Linked DNA regions of Homo sapiens: all the other regions are linked to region 1. Evidence: fine-mapped expression QTL. A gene starts in region 1. Each other region holds a variant in brackets. All regions are shown on one strand. Distances are from middle to middle. Region 1 holds the start of ESD (esterase D). Region 2 holds the start of CPB2 (carboxypeptidase B2). Region 3 overlaps ESD (esterase D).

Region 1 (8,190 bases):
GAGATTAAATTTCCACATATGAATTTTGGAGAGACACAAATACCCAGACCATAGTAACCTTTCATGAATTCTAAAGCCACTTGTGTGCCTACGATTTGCAAGTATTAGAGCTAGGATATGACTCAGCTCCTGCCTTTCAGAAACTTACTTATATTCAAAATTGCAATGCAATGTTAGGTGCCACAATAGAGGTGTGGCTGTACAAGGGCTAAAGGTGCACTGAAGAGTGCTTAGCTTTATCTAAGCAGTTCAAAAAGTTTCCTTGGGGAATGTGCATTTGAGCTGGGAACTGAAAAACATGTAAGTTTGTAAGGTAAATTGTGCATGGTGAGAAGTGTGTTGTGGGATAGGCAAAAGGAACAGCATGTGCAAAATCATGATGGTATAAGAGCATGGGGTGTTTAGATTATAATTAGGAGGGAAGTAGCTTGATACAGCTTCAGCATAGGATGGAATTATGAGGGAGCTGTAGCTCATGAACCTGGAGGGATAACTTGGTAATAATGTCATCTTCATTCATAGTGCCTGGCACATAGCAAGTGTTTCTTAACAGTAATATTTTGAGCATGTGTGTGTACAGATGCAGCCATGGGCTGCATTACAATGTTTTGGTCAATAACTTATTATATACACTACAGTGGTCCCATAAGATTGTAATACTGCATGTTTACTCTACCTTTTCTGTATTTAGCTGTGTTTAGATACACAAACACCATTGTGTAACAGTTGCCAAGAGTATTTAGTACAGTAACATGCTGTACAGGTTTATAGCCTAGGAGCAACAGACTATACCATGTAGCCTAGGTGGGTAGAAGGCTATACCATCTAGGTTTGTGTAAGTATACCCTGTGATATTCCCATAGTGACAGAATCAGCTATCAATGCATTTCTCAGAACACATCCCTGTCATAAAGCAACTCATGACTGTAGATAGATAGATAGATAGATAGATAGATAGATAGATAGATAGATAGATCCATTTATCTGTCTATTGAGAGAGAGAGCTGGAGGGAGGACATGGGAAAAAGAAAATGGAATTTCTAAATTGTTTTCATATAGGGAGGCAAACAGAAAGGGAAATTTGGGGTGACTTGTGGATATAATGGTCCTTGCAATAAGGCCAAGATGGCATATCTGCGGGGATTTCTACCTAACAGCTGATTCTTCATAACCAAGGAAGCTGTCCTAGTTCTCAGCCTAAAAAGATAATGATATAATATCTAGAGCTACTGACTTTTGGAGGATACATAAAACCCCAATTTTCTTCTAAATTCTTAGTTTCCTTTAGCAAAATCCCAGCCATGGTTATAATGGTAATCTCAGAATTTTTTAGTTGCCTCATTGTCTATGAAATAGTTTATTTTACTTCACTCTCCATGTTTACAAATAATTATAGAAGCATGTTTAAGCTATGCTGGGGAATGTGTAAGTGACTAGGAGGCATTTTAGAAATGACCTAAAGAAATAGTTGGCATTATTGAGAAAAGGATCATGAAAGCATAGGTAGTCTCACTAGCAAAATACTAATCTTACACCAAAGGAGATTTATAAGCATTAACCAAAACAGTTAGTGAACTGGCCTTTTGTCAGTTTTCATACATGCCAATGATTAACAGATAGCCAGAGTTCATTTTGTTTCTAATAAGCTATCAATGGAACTTTAAAAATTATGAATAAACTGACAAACTGTGGCTCAACAAATATGTAGAATGTTAAGAAACTTAACAGTACTGTAATTGAGCAAAAGGTGATAAAAGAATAGGAGTCACTTTGAACAGGAAAAAATCTATAGTTTTAGTTCTCATGCTAACAAAAATAACAATAATGGCTAACACAAAAGTCTAGCTCTGTACAATCACACACTAACTCTTGATTTTTTTGAATGTGTGATGAAAAAGAAATATAGCTTTTAGGATTTAAGAATTAAAAAAAAAAAGTAAATGGAATTGAGGCCAGATGCAGCTGGGTGCAACGGCTCATGCCTATAATCCCAGCACTTTGGGAGGCTGAAGTGGGAGGATCACTTGAGCTCAAGAGTTCAAGACCAGCCTGGGCAACATAGCAAGATCCCATTTCTACTAAAAATACAAAAATTAGCTGGGCATGCTAGCACACGCCTGTAGTGCCAGCTACTCAGGAGGCTGAGGCAGTAGGATCACTTGAGCCCAGGAGTTTGAGGTTGTAATGAACTATGATTGCGCCATTGCACTCCAGCCTGGGTGACAGAGTAAGACCCTATCTTAAATAAATAAATAAATAAAATTGAAATATGTGAAATTTGGACATTTGCTAATATGAATGTGAGACTGAAAGGCTTGTCTGTACTTGTTGTATTGTACTCTGCAGTTAGAACTTAAGATAACAAAGTCAAGATGGAACAGTGGCACAGGGCTATAAGTTTCCGGTACTTGGTTCAGTTCCCATGATCCAAAGTCTGGTCCTCAGAGTACACATTCAGAAACTCAATTCTGTAAGGTGAGTATCATGCTCAGAGATGGTAAGTCTTTGGGAAAATGTATCATCTCAGCTACACTCACCAGAGACTAAAGCATTTTTAACCTAAGTTCTGATTTATTAAATAACAATGGAGCCTATTATTTTCCAAAATGTCACTAGATAAGAATAGAATCAAAATAAAGGGAATTTTGAAAAATGTTTATCTAGGCCAGTGGTTCTTAACTAGGGGCAATTTTGCAGCCCTCCTCTACACCAACCCCTCCTTCCATGGACATTTGGCAATGTCTAGAGACGTTTTGGGTATCTAAGCTTGTTAGGGGTACCACTGGCATCTAGCTAGTGGAGGCCAGGGATGTTACGAAACATCCTACAATGCACAGGGTAGGCCTCCACGACAAAGAATCATCTGGCCCCAAATGTCAACAGTGCCGAGGTTGAGAAACCCTGTTCTAGTCTGTGGAAAAGCCACAAGGACACTTCTCAAGTAGCATATTTGATACCCAAGAGATTATATTATTTTCTATGTATGGTGTCTTTTCTAGTCTCTCTAAAACTATCTTTGCTATGGATTGAATGTTTGTGTTCCCCAGAATTCAAACATTGAACCCTAAATCCTTAACGTGATGGTATTTGGAGATGGAGACTTTGGAAGATAATTACACCATGATGGTGGAGTCCATGTGAATGGGACTAGTGCCCTTACAATAAGATGAAGGAACCAGAGCTCTCCTCACCCCACCCACCAAGTGAGACTACAGCAAGAAGGTATTCCTCTGCAAACGAGGAAAAGGGCTCTCAGCAGGAACAGATTTCATCAGCACCTTGATCTTGGACTTCCCAGACTTTTAGAATGGTGAGGAATAAATTTCTGTTAAGCTGGAACTGACTAAAACAATCTCTTTTCTTACAGGCTTCAAGTATATTTGACTTTTTCTCATTTTTATTGCATCCCTTTATTGCCTCCTTAAGATTATATTCCTACTCATTTTAGTTCAAACCAAGAGTCCTATATCCTCTCAGCCACACATTTACACATAATTTTTGGACTATTTCTTTGTGTACTTAATATTCATCCATTTTTATTGGTAGTGCCATTTTTTAAAATGTCAACCTTAATTTCTGATTTCAGCCTTCTTTGCTTCCATGTCCAAATAATAATGATAATTATATATATTCTTAATATTTTTAAGCAATCGACTTTTGTGGATCTATTAACATTTTATTTATGCTGGGTAAAAGAAATTTTAGTTCTGCTTATTCTCACATTGTATTCACACAAGAACCCTTTAGTAAAGAACTTCACACTTACAGTTCTTTGGCTAGTCTGCACCTCACAGCAGTCCACTTATTAGGCAAATATATCATTTAATCAATTATTTCTCTTTGTTCAAACATCAGTTATAAAGAACTTGCAATTTAGGTATTTATTCTGTTTCAGTTTTGAAACTGAAGAAAATCCCCTTTTCAATGATTTATACTTAAAGATAGTAAAAAGAAAGTTTAAAACAATTTACTTCAATGCTTTCTCAAAATAAAAACATTATTTTGATGAAACATTATTTTCAGTCTAAGTTCCAATTGATCCACAGGTTCAGTCCACAGGTTAATTTAGTCCAAAGATCACTATGGCAAAATGGGCCTGAGCCACACAATAGATTCTGGCAGGTAATCTCTTGTGTGGCAGCTCATCCATACTTAAGTCAGCTCCCATAGCTACACAATTTGCAGGGCCCAATTCCAGACACAAACGTGGGGCCCTGGTTCAACACTTACTGAGAGAAAATGTAGCGTCCTTCTGTTCTGGGGGCCGGGTAATAGCACAGGTTGCAGGCCCATGAGGCCAGCCCCAACTATCAGATTGTGTATTTACAATGTCAGTCTAACCGTTGCTGAAAAATACTTAGCTCTGTTGTAATCAGATTTAATTTCTCAAGAGGCAAAGTACACTCAACAGTTTGCTTAAATCAGAGAGACCAAAAGGAAAGATTTGCTGTAAATTATCAACTAGCAAATCTTAGTCAGTTCAACTTAATTTTTATTGAGGGAAGAAGGGAGAAAACAGAAAACTGATGGAGTTCCCACTGCGTGTCGGCCACTGGAGATTTCAAAGGTTTCTTGTTTAACTCAAGCTACCAAGTAGGTGACGTGGATAGTCTTGGGACAGAGGAGTTGAGGGAGTTGAAATTAGGCCCTAGTTTCTACATAAGTGACACGGAAACCCTCTGCACGAGTTAAGCGAAGCTACATCTCAAGTTTATTAATGCCTCGGGTTCTTGCTGCTGGCTCTGGGAAGAGTCTGAGCACGCACAGCAGACTGATCCCCGACAAGGTGACAGGGACTAACCTAACGCCCTCCTCGTTGGTCCTAGTAACCACACAGAGCAGAAACGCGGGCGAAGGCAGGAGTTGGAGGGGGCGCCCACGCGGAGGCTGCCGGGAAGTGCAATGTGCAAAGGCGGCGGGGCCATGGAGACTGAACTGGAGAAGAGCGGGTTCTCGGAGTTAAAAGCGAGAGTGAGTGGGACCGGAGGGGCGGGGCATCATATGGGCGGGGCTGAGGCGAGGCCCCGGCGGCCATCTTGAGCCCCGCCTTTTACTTCGGCCCGCTTCTTCTGGTCACTCCGCCACCGTAGGTAAGACTGGGTTCGGGTAGAGGCCTGGACGTTGTCAGCCTTCCTGCGGCTGCGGCACGGCTAGGCGTGATCGGGGCGGACGCCGAGTCCTGCGGTGCAGGTATCCGCAGGCACGAGCGCAGAGACGGCGACCCTGGGCCTTGGGCGCCACCATCCATGACAGGAGGCCAAGGACCTTTTCCCGTGACCCGGAGCCTCGCCTCTAATCCCTTTTCCTTCTCTGAGCCTCCAACCTAGTGTAACCCGGGGCGAGCGCCCGTTTACCTACTGCCCGCTACATTTGTACAGCTTTTTCCTGTTCAGAAAGACTTTCCTAGACCCGCAGCCACCGCGCGAAAATGTGAAGTAGATGTGTACGCATTTTAAGGAGGGAGCTGGCCTCAACGCGTTACTAGCGGCCGCCGGCGCCTGGTTCGGGGGAGTGTGGACCTGCTGCTCTAGGCAGCGTCCGCGTCGGGGCACGAGCCAATGGCGCGGTCAGGAGCACTCACCTGATGGTGCCGAGGGGAGCACGTGTCTTTGGAGTTTGACAAAATCTGTTCGGGTCGTAAAATGCTCTCAGAGCGCTGTGGGGGACTGGAAGTCATTTCTGATGGGGTCATTAGGGAAATGGGATTGAGCGCACCTGGAAGGAGAGGGCATTCAGGTTGCAGGAAAAATAATAGCTCATGTTTGTGTGTGTGGTAGAAGCAGCATTTTAAGCACTACGTGAATTAACTCATTTAATTCCCAGAGCAACCCTATCAAATTGATATATATTACTGTATACCCATTTTGCAGATGGGCAAATGAGGCATAGATTAGCTTGCCCAGTGTCATGTAGTAATAAGTGGTGAAGTCAGGGTTTGAACCCGGAGGGTCTGGCCCCAAAACCTGCTCTGAAACCATTGTACCGTGGCATTGAGTAAAGCCACCCGATAGCAACATCCAGGCCATCCTAGAATTATGCATAGTTGAGTTTAACTAACAAAATAGGGAGTGAGACCAGAAAAATAATCTGGGACCAAATTATAGACCATATTTAGAGCCATGTGAAGGTGTTTGGCGTTTATAGATGCTATATTTTTTTTAAAAAATTTTCCCCAGAGTTTAATAGAAATCCTTACCTAGGCAAGCCATGTGAATTTTTATGAAGGAAAAGAGACCCAGCCTAGGCAGCATGGCAAAACCTCCTCTACAAAAAATTACCTGGGCATGGTGGTGCCACCTGTGGTCCCAACTACTCCAGAGGCTGAGGCGGGAGGATCACCTGAGCCCGGGGGCCGAGATGATTGCAGTGAGCCGAGATCAGGCCACTGCACTCCAATCTGGGCCACAGAGTTTGACCCTGTCTCAAAAAAAAAAAAAAGAAGAAAAAAAAGACTGTGTTTGCACACAGGTAGAGTGTGACTGAAGTTTATATGGAGTTTTATTCATCTATTTTTTCAGTGATCCTGCATGGTTTTAATTTTATGAAATTTTAATGGCATTAAACTTGAAGAAAATTGTACAATTAACATGGTCTTCCATTTCAGTGACTTTCTGGTTCTCAGCGACTGGCCTAACAGCGAAAGGGATTAGTAGTCTCCACCTGCAGCAGCCAGGGGGTGATGAGGCAGTTCTCATCTGCTCATTATTGTGAGCTGGCGAACTGCGTTTTTACATATGACTAATGGATACTTAACACTACTGAAATACACACTTAGGAATGGTTAAGATAGTAAATATTATGTATGTGTTTTTATCACAGTTTTTAAAATACTAAATAAAAATGACTAACAATTCCACGTAGGCCGTATTAGGCTGCAGATGAGCTGTTGGTAGGGATCCGTTGACCAGTAAATTAAGTGGATTAAAACCCTAGGCTTTCATGCAGGATTGATCGTAGTGGGATGTATTAGGAAGAAAGGAAGAGGCTAAGTTTTAATTTCTTATATATAATTAGGATGATGGCAGTGGGAATTCAAAAAGAAGGTAACTTTGAGGCATCTCAAATGTAGATTAGGCAAGACAGGCATGAGTCTGAAAAAGAGAGGCAATGAAAAGAGGAATGGTTTGAAGGTGAGATGCAGAAGCTTAATTTTAGGTGTGGTAAGTTTTAATAGCTGGTGACATGTCTTGGTAGAAGAGTCCAGCAAGAAATGTCATTATGGGTACTAATGCTTGAGAAAGATTGGTTATAGAGATGCAGATTTAGATTATTTCACCCAGAAAATGTAGTTGAAATTTAGGGAATGAGGTTTAGGGAAAGAGTGTGAAGAAAAAAGAAAAGGGAGGTGGGAGGAGACAGAGTGAAAGGGAAGAAGCCAGATCCTGAGTTTTCACTGAGAAGAGGATTTGAACAACACAGTGGTGGTCAACAGCAGTTATTGGAACTGTAGATTGTTGGTTTTGGGAACACCTGTCTAGGTTGTTAAGAGCCAGTGGAATAGGACATCCTGGAAATGAAGAAACATCAAAATCCAAGGAATCTGAGAGAATGGGAACAAAAAAACACATGTAGAGATTTATGGAAAACTTGAGACACAGGGGAAGAAGGATAAAAATAGAACTCAGATTTCTGGAGGTGGATGACATTTAACTTTAATAAGTAAAGGGCCCTGTCTCTACAAAAAATTAAAAAAAAAAATATTCCAGTGTGGTACGCACCTGTAGTCCTAGCTGCTCAGGAGGCTGAGGTAGGAGAACACTTGAAGCTTGGAGTTCTAGGTTACACTGAGTCATGATTATGCAACTGTACTACAACCTGGGCCACACAGCCAAGACCCCATCTCCAAAAAATAAAAAATAAAGGGAAGAACAGTAAGGTTTGACCTTTAGGGGAATGGATGTATTATGCACTGAGAGACCCTTTCTTCTCCAAAGAATGTTGATGTTCACTAACATTTGGGAAAAATTGTGTAACTCCCACTGGCACTGTGAAATTGTTTTTCTGTTTTTGTTGTTGTTGTTGTTGTTGTTGTTTTTTGGAGGGGAAGGAGGAAGGGTGTTGTTTGGTTTTTTGGTATTCCACCCTACTCTGTCACCCTATTTCTCCCACAAAATCTGTTCTAGAACCTAAATATATATTTGTTCTAGAGCCTAAATGAAATCTACCAGATAAGTGACATGATATATACTA
Region 2 (8,190 bases), 690 kb after region 1:
AACTCTTTGAAGCTCAGAGCCTGCTGACCCTCTTTGAAGCTCAGAGCCTGCTGACGTTTGAGGTCAGGGCAGGAAAACAGAGAGAAAACCCACAATGAACCCAGCCTTACGCTGAACAGGAGACAGTAGCTGCCTGTGGCTACTGGTAGGGAAGAGGAGAGCAGGAGAGCTGAGACCCCTCCTATGGCGCAGGAGCACTGGGCCTGACGATGGGTGCAGGCAGGGCAGGAGAACTAAGACAAACCCTCCAGGCACTCAGATATCAATCCTGGCTAGAGGAAATAATTTGATCTTGCTATAATAATATAACAAATAAAATTTAACAAAAATAACAGCAAAGCCTAGACCCAGCTCAACTGCAGCCTAGATTGGCTCAATCCTTCACACTGGTGGCATGAGAGAAGAAGATATGGGACCTATTCTGGGCTTATCTGCTAGTTACTTTAGTCTATCCTATCCTTTTGTACATAACATCTGTGATTCAATAAAAAATTACAAGTATATGAAAAAGCATAAAAAGTGACCCATCTTCAAAAGAGAAAATGGTCAAAAGAACCAGATGCAGAGATTGCTCAAAGACAATCTTTGTTCATACATGTATGAAAAAATGGGAAATGCAGCAGTGAAAAGTAAACTCTAAAAAAAAATTCAAATAGAAGTGTCAGAAATGAAAAATATATCAGAAATAAAGACTTCTTTCAATGGACTTATCAGCAAACTGGAACTGCTGGGAAAAGAATAAGTGAACTTGAAGCCAGATCAATAGAAAATATCCAAATTGAAGCATAAGGAGAAAAAAGAGATAAGAAATAAAACAGACACACTCTAGTTATTATTGTGGTGAGGAAAGAAATTACTGCAAACTTATGGATGTAGACTCATACGTACAGAGCCAATGGATTTTTCCCAAAGATGGCAAAGCAATCCCATGGGAGAAAGAAAAGTGTTTTCAGGAAATGATGCTAAAACAATTGAATACTTATATGGAAAATTAAAGAACATCAATCCCTCCCTCAAAACATACATAAAAATTAATTTGAGATGGATCATAAACCTAAAAGTCAAAACTATAAAGCTTCAAGAATATCTGCATGATCTTGAGTTAGACAAAGCTCCTTAGACAAGACCCAGAAGGCACTAACCACTAAAGAAAAATTGATAAATTGAACTCAGCAAAATTAAAAACTTTTGCTCTGCAAAAGACATCAATAAAAAATGGGAGAGCCACAAAGTGTCAGAAAATATTGACAATGTATATGTCTGACAAAGGAGTTGTATCCTGAATATATAAATAACTCTCACAAGTTAATAATAAAACGACAACTAAATTTTCCAAAATGGTCAAAAGAATTTGATAGACATTTCTCAAAGGAAGATATATTTACAATACATATATCTGACAAAGGACTGATGTCTAGAAAATGTGAATAACTCCTACAAATCAGTAATAAGACAAACTATCCCAACTAACAACCAGGCAAATGATCTGAACAAACACTTCTATATATATATATATATATATATATATAAAATCTAACTGTACACTTACGATCTGTGCATTTCACTGCATGTACCTTAATACAAAGGAAAAAAATGCTGCTCACTTTTACCTAGGACTGGTTTATAAGTAGCTGCTAGTCAGTATGAGACAGAATAACTACACCAGGAGTAACTAAGCCAATAATTAAGTCAAGTCATTACTGTTTGCTGACTGGATCTTTGAAATGTGCTCCAAAAACCAGTGTAAGACAGGGCTCTGGAATGGAAGCGCAGGGACTTCTTGGAGGCATGTGCCAAGCAGAGAGAAGTGAGCATAGGGGAAGAGAGAAAGAAATGAAAGACTTCCTACTTGAAGGAAGACTTCCTACTCAAAATGAGCCTGCAGACCAGAGTTCCAAATCACAGAAGAATTCAAATACCAATAAAGGCAGCTAACAAAATCAATACTCAGAACATGAATTCACCCAAACATAATTAACCTCATAAAGCAGTGCAACACTGACTTTAAAATAAGTATCCTGAGGATTCTCAATGAGAGATCTAAAGGAATCATATCGACTAAAAAATTGAAAAAAATCTTAAATGATATTTTAAAATACTGGTATAAAAACAAAATCAGTAAACACGCAAAAGAACCAGCTGTAAATGATTTATATAGTCATCGAGGTAATTATTTAAAACACCTCAACTGGACTATGTAGTCTAAATTAGACTCAAAGAATAAATTAGTGGATTTGAAGATAGTGCTGAGAAACTCACCCAGAATACAGCATACAGAGACAAAGATGATGAGTTTTTAAAACATGAAAGGACAGTTACAAGACATGAAAGATAGATCAAGAAGCTCCAACAGGAGCCCCTACAGGGCACTAGCAGAGATACGATAGCTGAAGAAATAATAAAATGATTTTCCAAGACTGAAGAAATGTCTAAATCCTCAGATCAAAAGTACATCCTGTGTATTGAGTAAGATAATAAAAACTAAATCCACATCTAGACCAGAGTAATGGATCTGAGAAGCACCAAGGATAAAGATAATCCCTTAAAAGTTATCAAGGAGAAAGGACAGCTAAACTGCAAGGGAACAACAATTACCTGGGCAGCAGATTCCTACCATGCAACAGGAAATGTCAAACAACAATGACGCATCCGTCACACTCGAATATTACATTCAGCTAAACTAGTACTTGAAAGTGAAGGCAAAAGAAAGTTATTGTTAAAGATACAGAGCATAAAAGATTTTATCACCTGTAGACTTTTGCTATAGGAACTTTTAAAAGATTGCTTCAGCAATAAGAAATGTAATTTAAAATTTATTGTTTTTTATGCACTCTGTTTCTTTTGTATCCTGTTTCTGTTTCCCCAGAGAGGAAACAGGACATAAAATAAAGAAGAAACACAGATACAAAATAAGTAGCACAAAAATTGATAGAATTTATTAGCATATTTTAACTATTTTGACTGTTTGTTTTAAAGTTAACTTTTATGTTAAAAAGATAAGGTAAAAGTTACTTGGGTTAGTTTTTCTTTCTCTCCTTCAGTGTGATTATGTTATTCATTTGAAACACAGGTTCGTTTTTGTTTGTATTATTTTTTAAAATTTATTTGTTTGCTTGTTTTAAGTACATATGTGAAAAGAACATGGTTCTAAAATTCAGAGTAGTTCTAAAGTTCAGAACTATTCAAAACACTTCACCCAAAGAAGCGTCCCTCCCTGTCTCTTCTACCCTGTCTTTTCCAGTGTGTTTCCACTCACCTCCCGTGGATAACCAGTCTCATTGATTTCTAATCTATCCTTCTTATGTTTCTTTCTCCACATATGAGCAGACACACACATATTTTCTTATTTCTTCTTCTTTCTTATACAACAAGTGGTTACAGTGGAGGTCACTTTAATTCATTAAATATCATTCAATAGTTTTAAATCTCAAAAGGAAAAGTTTGAAATCTCAATCATTTTCTTCTGGCCAGGCACGATGGCTCACGCCTGTATTCCCAGCACTTTGGAAGGCAGAGGCAGGTGGATCTCCTGAGCTCAGGAGTTTGAGACCATCCAGTGCAACATGGTGCAACCCTGTCTCTACTAAAAATACAAAAAAAATTAACTGGGTGTGGTGGGGCACACCTCTAGTCCCAGCTACTTGGGAGGCTGAGGCAGGAGAATTGCTTGAGCCCCAGAGGTGAAGGTTGCAGTGAGCCAAGATCACGCCTCTGCACTCCAGCTTGGGCTACAGAGTGAGACTCTGTCTCAAAAAAAAAAAAAAAAAAAGAAAAGAAAAAAGAAAAAAAATCATTTTCTTCTCAGAAGTTAATTGTGGGCAGGCTGATTTATTTTGCAAATTTGCCAATTCTGACTTCAAGAACATTCAAGTGCATTAACCAATGGGAATGTAGGGGAAGAGGGCTCCACTCACTTACAGAGGGTAGGATATGGCCTCATACTAGACAAAATGTTATTTGATGCTACTTTCAAGATGATAGGGGATGGGCCTGGATTTAATTGATGGCTATTATGGTGACCTTTAAATAAATGAGATTCAAAGTAACCTGATGTCTTTACTGCTTGAACCAGCTTCCATGAAATAGTATTCCTATTGGGGGTGGGCCTATCATTCCATATGGTCAAGGAAACATCTTTTTGAACAGAGATCCTGTAATCATCCTTACAAACTGCACTTCAACATTGGATTGGATTAGCCAGATTTGAGGAACTCACTTTTTACATCTTCATAAATTTAAAATGTTGAAAAAGTCAGAGGCAAGGGAAGACATTTATAGTACTTCACGGTAGATCTCCCTCAACATGGGCTATATATCCATTAGTCAATATTCTATAGCTATTGTTCTGCAATAAACCAGACAA[G/A]ATCCTACTGTATTACTACCCTTTTATTCTTGGCCCTACCTTCCCCAAGGAGTTACACATTTTCTAGATAGTCTAAATTAAGAGCAACTCTCATCATACTCTTTTTGAGTGTTTAATTATCAAGCAACAGCCTAACTAAGCCAATAATATTTCTCTTTTTGGGAGTGGAAATGGAAGCTAAGTTGATTGACCCACAGGAACAAGAGGGAACATGCCGTTATATTTTAACCAGTGTGTAAAGAAGGCTGTTATGCAATCAATGATCTGGGTTTTTCTCTTCAGAGAAATTTGTTGTACAGAAAATTGCTGTTGGGATGAAGCTTTGCAGCCTTGCAGTCCTTGTACCCATTGTTCTCTTCTGTGAGCAGCATGTCTTCGCGTTTCAGAGGTAACCCAATAGAATCTTAGACTGTGGTGGGCCACTCTCCTCACTTGTTTGCCTCATGTCGTGTCAAGTCAGTGCACTGAGCTGGTGGACAAAATGGTAAACTTTGAAGGCCAGGTCTTTCAGAACTTTCCAAGTTGCCCTGACAAATAAGTAGACTTTAGCACAATGGGCTATCACTAAAGACAGGGTCTTTTTTCTTTCCTGGCTCTGGTTTTATTATTGGGAGAACCTTGGATGATACGCATATCCAGTGACTATGGAGATTCAAGAAATTAAATCTTTTATAAACGTAACTATTTATACTCTAACTTGATGTATGATTCATATTCTTCCTGTCTTCACATAAAAAAAGTTAACTATGGATCATTTATTTTCCCCTTGTACATGGAACATAGGAGGAAGAAGAGGGTGAAGTGTTAAATAGGAGGTTTGGATCATGCATGATTATTTAGCATGGAATATGAAAGGAAGAAGAGTTGTGTGATAAAGAACTATTATCTGATTCTTATTTTGCTTAGTAGATTCCCTTAGGATAAACTATCTAGAAGAACACAAATGAATTCATGCTATAGCACATGCAATGCATGGAGAAAATAGTTCCAGGGTATATGTAATGTAATTTATTAAGTAGTCAATTTTTAGGCTTTAAAACATTGATATTGTTTCCTTTGGAATTATCTTATTTTTTCCCCTTTGTTTTGGTTCTATGATCGCTTTCTCCTCCAATTATCTTTGAGACAGATCCCTCTCCTCATGTTAGTAAATGACAAAGAAAGAAGAGACATAGGGCAAAGGAATATACCAGTGACAAGGAACATTCTACCACCAAAAAAATGTTCACGGTCATAAATAACCATAGGACAATGGTTTGGAAAATAGATCTTGACTTGTGAGCCTGAAGCTGTGTTTGTACATGATCACTGAACTGATTATAGTTGATTGATCTTCTTTTGTTCAACATGATTGTCGAATGTCGAGCAACAAATTCTATCATAAAATGATATTATTTTTGTTATTTAATTGACGTGGGGGTCAAGATTGCTGCAATGATCAGTGACTTATGTCTTTCTCTGTATTTTATCGGTGAATCATATGGTCAGGATTTCTAAGGTTCTTGCTAGTTCTAATATTCCATAACTTGATAATTGGCTTCAGTTAAGGGAAAGGGGGAGAAGAGAAAAATTGGTATCAACATGTCCAACTTGGCTACTGTACACAGTGGCAGTACCATTGACAGTTAGGGGAAAGGGAGGAAACCTCTGCTTATTTAGTGCCTGTGTTTGTGCCAGGCACTGAACTAGTCACTTAGAAATGTTATCTCTTTAAATGCATAAAATCCTACATGCTAGGAATCTTTACTGACATTTTACAAAGGAGGAAACTGAGCCTCAGGAAGAATAAATAATTGGCCCAAGATCAAACAGTAAATGTAGAGCTTGGATTCAAACCCACTTTAGCCTCATTTCAACTCCATGCACTGGACAGCATTGCCTCCATAAAATCTGGAAATTAGGAAGAGAGCCAGTTTGAAGGAAGGTCAGATTTAGTCAAAGGGAGTTGCAGGCAGCAGTTGGTTTGGAAAGTAGCTTGGAAGAGAGGTTCGGGATTAGAGGTTCAGTCTCATGGTTCTCACCCACTAGCAGATCTAATCATGGCCTTGGCGTCAGCCCAGTGCAATTATCCTCAGCTGGTTGTTGCAGAGGTTGGCGGGCAGGTGGGCTCACTGCAGACCGCCATCTTGATCGTAGAGTAACCCAAACTCTTGGATAGGATAATCAATAGCAAAACACACTAAAAGCTTTAGCACATCTCTTCAAATGAGTACGTGTATAGCAGCTTAGTGACACTAAATATAACGCAAATAGAAGAAGTAGCCAACAATAAAATAGTAAAAAAATGAGTGAGAACATATCTTCATGCATGGGCTTTGTTACTATTTGTTGCTTCAGCTTATACTCTGAAATCTGACTGATACTTATGCTTGAAAAAAGGAATGAGAATGTGACTATATTTTAACCAAAGAATATCACATTAAAAATATTTAATACTTTTGCATACTGCGAGGGTCCCTTTGCAGAGGAGAGGAGGTAGGAGGACCTCAGTATTGTAGACAGATGAATATCTGAATCCTGGTTCCCATCCCTTCACTGGAAATAACATTGCAAACTACTCTTTCTGTGAGTAAAAATAAATTTTTTTACCAAATGTTTCTGTGCTCCACTTTTCCAGGAATGGCCTATTCCTGAAGCTAAAAAGGAAATCTAATTTCATTCAGGGCAACAGACTTTGATAAATTGTTGCTGGGGTTCAGAATATCAACCCTTCTAAAAAAAAAAAAAAAAACTAACAGTCTGGCTTTTTCTTAAAGCTGTTCTTTGTTTTTTTTTTTTTTTTTGTCATAATCATTTTCCTACTAACAGTTTTTATTCATGCAGTCTCTTAGTGGCTGATTTGTAGGTTCATTTTGATAAATTTCATCAGTGAAATGCCCTGGAACAACAACAAGTTTTAAAGGCATAAATATCATATGCCAAAGGGAAAGGCAGCCAAAAAATCATGACTCCATATTCATTTGCTTTTAAAAGCCAAACACTATAAAGGGTAAAAATAAAATACTAGCAAGAATCTTGTAAACAGAATCAGTAATTGTATTGTGCAGTGATTACCTAAATGCAGCCTGCCAGCCCAGACTATTTGGAAAGAGGAAGTAAGAGACACTAGGAAGAAGACTTAGGAATTAGAGAGTGGAGGAGGGTTGAGGATAAAGGGCTTCTGAATTATTAATAGACCACAGGAAGTGTTCCTCTGTTGACTTCACATACTGTTTGGGTACCTGGAGACCAGTTTACTCTCTTTCACTTTGTTCCTACTGATGTATTGTTTTCATCTCAAAGAACAGGCCACCAGTGGCCTTAAAACACTGTAATGTGTGCAACAAAATTGCAGCCTTGGGCTATGTTCCATTGTTCAGAGACATCTTGCCAGCTTTTTAAATTCAAAATAATCTTTCAGAATGGTGAAAGTGTGAACCCTCCCCTGTAAACCATAGCAGGGGATACACCCCAATGAACATAATGACGTTCTCAGAAGGGAAGGAACAGAGGAAGTGTTGCATAGGTATTAAAAGCTCAGGATCTGGATTCGAGCCCCAGATCTGCTACTTATCACCCATGCAGACTTGGGCAATTTGCTCGTCCCCTTTCAGCCTTTACTTTTTTTTGTAAAGTGACCTGTTACTTCACTGTGCTTGTACTTCTCATTCGATTTTTGGTGCAAGGCTGTTCTTTTTTCTCAAGTGGTTATTGTGTAAGTGCTATAATCGTATCATTCAGAGACGCAGTTGAAACACAGCTTTAGTTTTTGTCTCCCATTGCCCCATGACATTTTGCGTAGTGGGGTTATCTATCACTGCTCTCGCATGGAAAGTTAGAAAATTTCA
Region 3 (8,190 bases), 27 kb after region 1:
TCATGCACATGATTTACTCAACTTCATTCTTTTACCTCTTTTTAATGGTGTTAAATGCTCACAATTTATATTTATACTCTGTCGAATGTCAAAAAAAATTTTTTAGAGAGAGGGGTTAGTGCATCGGGGATATTTATTTGGTTATTATTTTATATAATTTTTTCTTTTTCTATTTTGGCTTCAGGGAATCTAAATTGAAAAAAAAATACTAGGTAGCAGAATTCTGATATCTAGTGTACAGAGATCAAATCTTAGTCTGAAAAAGAAGGGCCTAGTATGTCTTATCTTTAGTTATTGGAGTTACACAGTGAGAAAAAAAAATTTAGTGACCTAATACTGTGAAGAAGTTTCCAGAAATAGTAATCTCTTTTTGTGGAATAGAAGGAGAGGCTATACTACCTCCTTAAGTCTCAGGACCTTTTTGAAGATTGAGAGGCTGTTTTAGCCTCTGCATCTGCCTGCTAGAGAAGAGTAAGAACATGGCAGAGAATCCCAGAAATGTAGAGCTCTCTCATTCATCTCTGTATCCCATGCTTATTTAGCATAGGTATCTAGCACAGAGACTCTCAATACTTGTTAAATGAATACAGTGCAAAGTCTTCCTCCTTATACACTGAAGAGATTTAATAACCTGGGGATTCTTATCCAAGCTTTTCTAATTGGGTCTGGAAAATATATAAGAAAACACTGCCTGTTAGGATAAACATCCATCATAGCTGCTGGAGCACTGCTCCCTTTTTGAGAGCTGAGTGAAGAATGAAAGAATGAAAGGTGTTCATTTATTTTTATACTCCAGGAGTCAAGAGTTTTGCTACCAAGGATTTTCCATTTAAAGTGTGAGGTAGAGGAGAAAAGTCCCCTTCAAGTGTCACTAAACATAGGCATTTGCACAAGCTGCTTAACATATCATACCAACTCATTCATCAAAGAATTTAATTAAAGAAGCCATCCCCATTTAATAAGACTGATAAATAGAAACCCTCGTCAGGGATGATACAATTAGCTCGAATTGTGTAACTTCAGCAGGATACCAATTGTTCAAATGTATTCTATTGCCTTTTTGTTGACATTTTTTAAAATTCTTGGGCCCTCAATGGCAGGCATTTTCTTCTTTCTCATATAGGTGAATCTTTATCATTATGGAACTTATGGTCATTTGTTTTGGATTTTAGATGTCTTGTCTTGCAATATATTCCTGGGTTTACCTTGGGACTTCTCTAATAATAATGATGGCTATTCATATGTGTCTGATGGCTCTTAACACACAAGAAACTAAGGATAAAAATATGGCATACTCAGTCACATTGGAACTTGGTCACACAAGTCTTTTGAGATATCTGTTTCCCTGCATCTGTACCCATTTTCTATCAGATCCATCTTTTGATCTGTGAAAAATGGCAGATAATACTTGGTACATTTTACAGGTTTGGTGGCCTAAAACTCCAGGCCTGTTTAACTTCTTAACAATTCAAGAATTATATGGATGGAAAATGTTTTTCTTTACATTTCTTTCTTTATATAGGAAACTGTAATTTAGCTCTAAATTCAACTAGCCAGCTGGGACTAGTCTAATCATTGAGAGACATGACACCAAGTAATTCCGAGGCTCAGCTTTAATCTTGACAACATTCCTGTCACATTCACTTCCATGATAGAAGACAGATTGCTTTAGAAGACTTAAGTTACCTTGACCTTAAACTAGAACTTTTTATTAACAGCTGTTCCCAAGATAAACATTTAATACCTCTCTGGAAGGGAGAGATTGAGAACATTTACTGATTCATCAAAACCTTGGGGATTTCCTTGTTCTCTGAAGCGTCAGTGATATTTTTATTAGCTCTATTTTTATTTCTTAGGTGCTTAGAAAAATTCCCATCTTTTCCCATCAGTGACCATTCACTAGTTCAAAATGGGAAAAACAAAATCTTTGTTAGACTTTCATTTCTTTCGGTTTATTCAACCTTGTATTTTAATTGTAGATAGGGATAAATTATCTGGTGTTTGATACCCTTAGAAAGTTCTTCCCACCTGGAGTGTAAATTAGTTTAACCATTGTAGAAGATAGTGTGGTGATTCCGCAGACCTAGAGGCAGAAATGCCATTTGACCCAGCAATCCTATTACTAGGTGTATACCCAAAGGAATATAAATCATTCTGTTATAAAGATACAAGCACACATATGTTCACTACAGTACTATTCAATACTATTCAATAGCAAAGACATGGAATCAACCCAAGTACCCATCGGTGATAGACTAAATAAAGAAAATGTGGTACATATGCACCATGGAATACTGTACAGCCATAAAAAGGAATGAGATCATGTCCTTTGCAGGGACATGGATGGAGTTGGAAGCCATTATCCTCAACAAACTAATGCAGGAATAGAAAACCAAACACCAGGCCAGGCGCAGTGGCTCACGCCTGTAATCCCAGCACTTTGGGAGGCTAAGGTGGACGGATCACAAGGTCAGGAGATCGAGACCATCCTGGCTAACATGGCGAAACCCCGTCTCTACTAAAAATACAAAAAATTAGCTGGGCATGGTGGCATGCACCTGTAGTCCCAGCTAGTCGGGAGGCTGAGGCAGGAGAATCGCTTGAACCCGGGATGTGGAGGTTGCAGTGAGCCAAGATCATGCACTCCAGCATGGGTGACAGAGTGAGACTCCGTCTCAAAAAAAAAAAAGACCAAACACCACATGCTCTCACTTATAAGCAGGAGCTGAATGGTGAGAACACATGGATATATGGAGGGGAACAACCCACACTGGGGCCTGCCAAAGGGCGATGGGAGTTGGGGAAAGCATCAGGAAGAACAGCTGATGGATGCTCGGCTTAATACCTAGGTGATGGCTTGATCTGAGCAGCAAACCACCATGGCACACGTTTACTTATGTAACTGCATATCCAGCACATGTACTCCTGAACTTAAAAGTTGAACAACAAAAAAAGAAGGAAAATGCGTTAATACCTTATTGTAATTATTTTTTTTTTGGAAGACTATTTTTTATATTCAGAAGAAGTGTCAGAGTCAGCAGAAAGGGATTATTTCTCCATTTACCTACAACAATGGTTTTAAATGACTGGATAGATAGAAATCTCTTTCAACTTAACTGCTTAGCACATTGCATTTTTCTCTGTTTCATGTTAGTTTTCCAAAGGATTACTGACTTTTTACCTAATTTGCTAAGGGATGTCAGGCCTTAATGACATATTTCCCCTCACATAAAGATACAACATGCTTTTACTGTGTAGGAGGAATTGTTAACAGGATTTATGATGGCTGTGTTTGACTTCCCAACAATGATAGAACATTTGGGCATTTTTATGTTCTTTTTCTATATTGTTTGTGTGCTTATTTTGTGTTTTAATAGTCACTGTCTTACTGATGTGCTGCATTTGTGAATTGAAATGTCTTGCCCATGTTTCTAAGATCTCTAAATCCTGATTCTTTTCATCTTGGTTGATATGACAGTGTCATATCAACTGACACTGTCAATTGATAGTGTCATTTTCAATGACAGTGTCTACTCTGCATATTTAATGCACTCTACAGTGTTGATATGACATGTCTACTCTGCATATTTAATTAATGTGTTACTTCCACTCTTTACATATTAATGGCAGCATTTAGAAGTTAGGCTATGTTTAGAAGCTAGGCAGAATGTTTAGTTTTCCTTCACATTTTTGCTGCTCTTTTAATGTACAGTGAAAATGTTAAAGTACAAGGATGACAACCTTGATTTTATTATAAACCTTCCTCATACTTCCTTAATGTTATGACTATTTGTAAGCAAATTAAACGACCTTAGAGATATATTTAATGTTCCTAATACTGATGTTCCTGAATGGTAGATAAATGTCTTATCATCTCTTTATCTTCTAGGGTTATGATCATAGCTACTACTTCATTGCAACCTTTATTACTGACCACATCAGACATCATGCTAAATACCTGAATGCATGAAAAAACTCCAAATAAGAGAATCTCTTCAGGATTATAAAAGTTGTAAAATGCAACTGTATTGCTGAGCAAAAAAAAAAAAAATTCAAAACATTGGATTTTATAGTGCTAAAAGGGCTTTATTCTATAGTTGAATCACCTCTGAATAAAGATATAAAACCTACTTCTGATTTTAAAAGTTATTTTACAAGTGTTCACATAGGAAATCTTTAATGCTCTATAG[C/T]TTTTTCAGTGTCGTTTGGAAATTCTTGTATTAATCCCAGGTCATAGAATATGAATGTAATCCTATTTGAAGTATAGAGTAGCAACTCTGGAACAGAAGACTTAAAAGTAATTTAGCCCAGACTCCTCACCTTTCCAGACTTTAAGCCTCTGAAGACATTGGACTGTCTTTGTCATGTTCATTGTTGTATCTCTAGTGTCTAGCAAGTGTCTAGAAAGCAAATATCCACTTGATTTCTAGTGGATATTTAATAACTGTTAGCTACAGAATAAAGAGGTAGGCTCAGAAAGGTTAAATGAATTCCCCATCGTTACACAGCTATTTGTGGGATATTAGAAGACAGATTTTCTTTTCTTACCTATTGAGTCTAATATATTTGTGAACATTGGTTTTTGGGTGTATTAAGGTTCTCAAGAATTAAATAAGATTCAATCTGAAAATGGCTAAATAAGGAAACGTATTAGTTTCATATGTTACTGTAAACATGAATATTTTCCCATAGTTGCAAGCAGAGATTTAACTTGGTGAGCTCACCAAGAAAAGTAATATCTCTGTAAATACCCAATTGTTTTCCTTTAAGAACTTTTAATAGACAAACTTTTTGAAATGTGATAAAAGCCAGTAAAACATGATAGAAGCCAGTAAAACCTGGCTGCTTTAAAAATATATTTTTTTCTGTTAAAAAATAAATTTTAAACATTCAGTAGGAATGCATATTATGGTAACTGAAGAAAATGACATTAAGTTCCTAAAGTTATAAAATTAGTATTATTTAAACATCAGTAGTCAAGGTTGAGCCCTTGAATGAGCTGTACACAGAATGGTTCTCATTTAAACAGTCTTGTGTCTTCTAATAAGATCATTCATGAACGTTTTACATGCTGGTAATTTATTTGTGAAGAAAAACAATTGTCCCTAAGATCATTGAGGTTGAGGTTTAAACCAGGGAAGCAAAACTAGTAGGAGATATATACATTAAGATTTTTTTTAAAAAACGAGGAATTGGCATACCTGGATTAAGAAAATGTGGCACATATACACTATGGAATACTATGCAGTCATAAAAAAGGATGAGTTCATGTCCTTTGTAGGGACATGGATGAAGCTGGAAACCGTCATTCTCGGCAAACTATCTCAAGGACAAAAAACCAAACACCGCATGTTCTCACTCACAGGTGGGAATTGAACAATGGGAACACTTGGACACAGGAAGGGGAACATCACACACTGAGGCCTGTTGTGGGGTGGGGGGAGGGGGGAGGGGGGAGGGATAGCATTAGGAGACATACCTAATGCTAAATGACGAGTTAATGGGTGCAGCACACCAACATGGTACATGTATACATATGTAACAAACCTGCGCGTTGTGCACATGTACCCTAGAACTTAAAAGTATAATAAATATATATATATAAAAAAAAAAAAAAAAACAAGGAATTGGCATACCTGATTATGAGGGCTGGCTAAGCAAGTCCAAAATCCATAGAGCAGCAGTCAGGAAGGGACAGGCACAAGCAGGACGGACTCTGGGCATGGGCTCAAGCTGTTGTACACAGGAGGAATTTCTTCTCTCCTGGTGAGGCCTCAGTCTTGCTTTTAAGGCCTTCTGATTAAGTGAGGTCCACTGGATTGTCTCTCCTCTTTAAAGTCAGTTGATTAGGGACTTTATCTGCAAAATTCCTTCATAGCAACACCTAGATTAGTATTTGAATAACAGGGGACTGTAACAAACAGCTAAGTTAGTTAGTGTATCATTGTTAGAAAATAGTTGCTTTGCTTTTTTACACGTAAATGCAAAACATTTAAATATTCATTAAGTAATTGCTGATGAACAGCTAATGTTAGTAAAGACAAAGACCTTTAGTTAAAACAGAAATGACTGTTGAGGATAATAAACCAATACATTTGAGCTTGCTTTTTTGTGCCACAAATGCTGGCCTGGGGAGGGATGAGTCCTTATCAATGCCTAAATGTAACATGAGTTTCCCCAACTAGAAAGAGTTCAATCTTAATGTCTCTCATATTGTAAGGTTCCATCTCAGTGACATAGTTAACAATACATAACCTAAACATTAACTCCCAATGCTTGTTTAGGGTGTTTCTAGAAGTCACCTGACAATCAGGTATAAAAGGAGGTAAAGGAATCTGACATTTCCTGGATTATGTTCAATGTAAGACCCTTGTGAAGATTATGTTCTTGAAGAAACGTAATACTGTAAAGCCACCACCATGAAGAGTAAAAGGACAAGCCACAAAGTAGATGGAGATGCTTGCAACACATATATCTGACAAATAACTTGTATCTAGAATGCCTGAAGAACTCTCACAAATTCTTAAAAACATAAAATTTGGCAAAAAATTTGTACTTAACAAAATAGGACAAATATGGCTAATGAATGCCTGAAAATGTGCTTAGTAAGACTGGGGAAATACGAATAAAAACTACAATGCAATGAACCTACACACCCACCTGAATGGCTAAAGTTCAGACAATGGAAAATCCCAGGTGTTGACAAGGAAACATGGCGACCTGAATTATACTGCTAATAAGGTGCAATCTGGCAGGATCTGCTAAGGTCTAGTTCAACCTTAGCAAACTGGTAAGGTCTGATGAGGCCTCAGACCTTACTTAGCACGTCTCCTATAGCCTTTCAATGCATGTTTCTGTACTTAACAGGAACATTATGGCTACATGAGAATGTTTACAGCAGCACCATTTACAATGGCCAAAATCTAGAAATAACCTGAATCCATCTATAACAGAATTAGTAAAATTGGAGCATATTCATACAATGAAATATTCTACATGAATAAAAATAAACACACTATAACTGGATGCAGCAACATGGATGGGGTCTCAATCATAATCTGGAAGAAAGAATCCTGACACCAAATTATGTGCTATATAATAACTTGGTACCATTTTATATGCATAGTATTGAAGACAGGAGGTGTTACACATAGCAAGGCAATGGAAGGGGGTGGTGGGGGGCATTCTGAGGGAGAGGTGATTGGAGCATGGCAGGAGAGAGTACTGGTGATGCTATCTTCATCCAGGTGCTTGGTACATGAGCATGTTCACTGAAAATTCATCAGGCCATACACTTAGGATTTATAAACTTTTTAATATGTGTTATACTTTAATAAGGTTTACATTAAAAGTATATTAAGTAGTTATGCTGTGAAGATCATAAATATACTACTGCATGAAGAATTTAAAAATCCTGATGTTATTGCAAAGAATACTTATCTTGGGGGATACAATTTCCAGTGGCTACATCGTTTATCAATTCAAGTAATATTGTATCTCAAACCACTTAGAAGTGAAGGTGATGTGAAAAGTTGCTGCAAAAAGTGGCTGTAGGCCAGGCGTGGTGGCTCACATCTGTTATCCCAGCACTTTGGCAGGCCGAGGTGGGTGGACCACTTGAGGTCAGGAGTTTGAGACCAGCCTGGCCAACATGGCAAAACCCCATCTCTACTAAAAATGCAAAAATTAGCCAGGTGTGGTGGCAGGTGCCTTTAATCCCAGCTACTCAGGAGACTGAGGCAGGAGAATCGTTGGAACCTGGGAGGCAGAGGTTGCAGTGAGCTGAGATTGCACCACCGCACTCCAGCAACGGACTGAGACTCTATCTGCCCCCTCCCCCAGAAAAAAATGGCTGTAGTGATGTTACTGATATTGACGATGCAAATGAGTTTAGATAAAACCATGTCATAAAATCTTACAACAGAATATTTAATATTTCCAAGCTGACATATCTCAAGTATTTTTAAAGTATACATATAAAATCTGTGACAAGTAGGCATGAATTATATATTTAAAAATGTATAAATGTATTCGAATTAGCCAAAGTTTTGGATGTTATCATTAGAAAAATGCAGATCCAGGCCAGGCGCAGTGGCTCACACCTGTAATCCCAGCACTTTGGGAGGCTGAGGCAGGTGGATCACAAGGTCAGGAGTTTGAGACCAGCCTGGCCAACGTGGTGAAACCCCA

The links.
Region 2: its variant is fine-mapped to the expression of ESD in amygdala (GTEx, PIP 0.96).
Region 3: its variant is fine-mapped to the expression of ESD in whole blood (TOPMed, PIP above 0.99).

The regions. Positions count from the first base shown.
Region 1 is chr13:46,794,005-46,802,194 of GRCh38, reverse strand. ESD (esterase D) reads left to right here and starts at 5,034. Exons shown (of 10, transcript NM_001984.2): 1 at 5,034-5,090. RefSeq lists enhancers at 5,117-5,166, 5,298-5,899 and a silencer at 5,477-5,526.
Region 2 is chr13:46,101,497-46,109,686 of GRCh38, reverse strand. It overlaps CPB2 (carboxypeptidase B2), which reads left to right and starts at 4,654. Exons shown (of 11, transcript NM_001872.5): 1 at 4,654-4,751. The coding sequence starts at 4,678. The variant G/A (reference allele first, on the strand shown) is at 4,364.
Region 3 is chr13:46,767,196-46,775,385 of GRCh38, reverse strand. ESD (esterase D) reads left to right here. Exons shown (of 10, transcript NM_001984.2): 10 at 3,890-4,130. The coding sequence ends at 3,970. Among named protein-coding and RNA genes, the nearest start is that of ESD, 26 kb to the left of the region's middle. The variant C/T (reference allele first, on the strand shown) is at 4,191.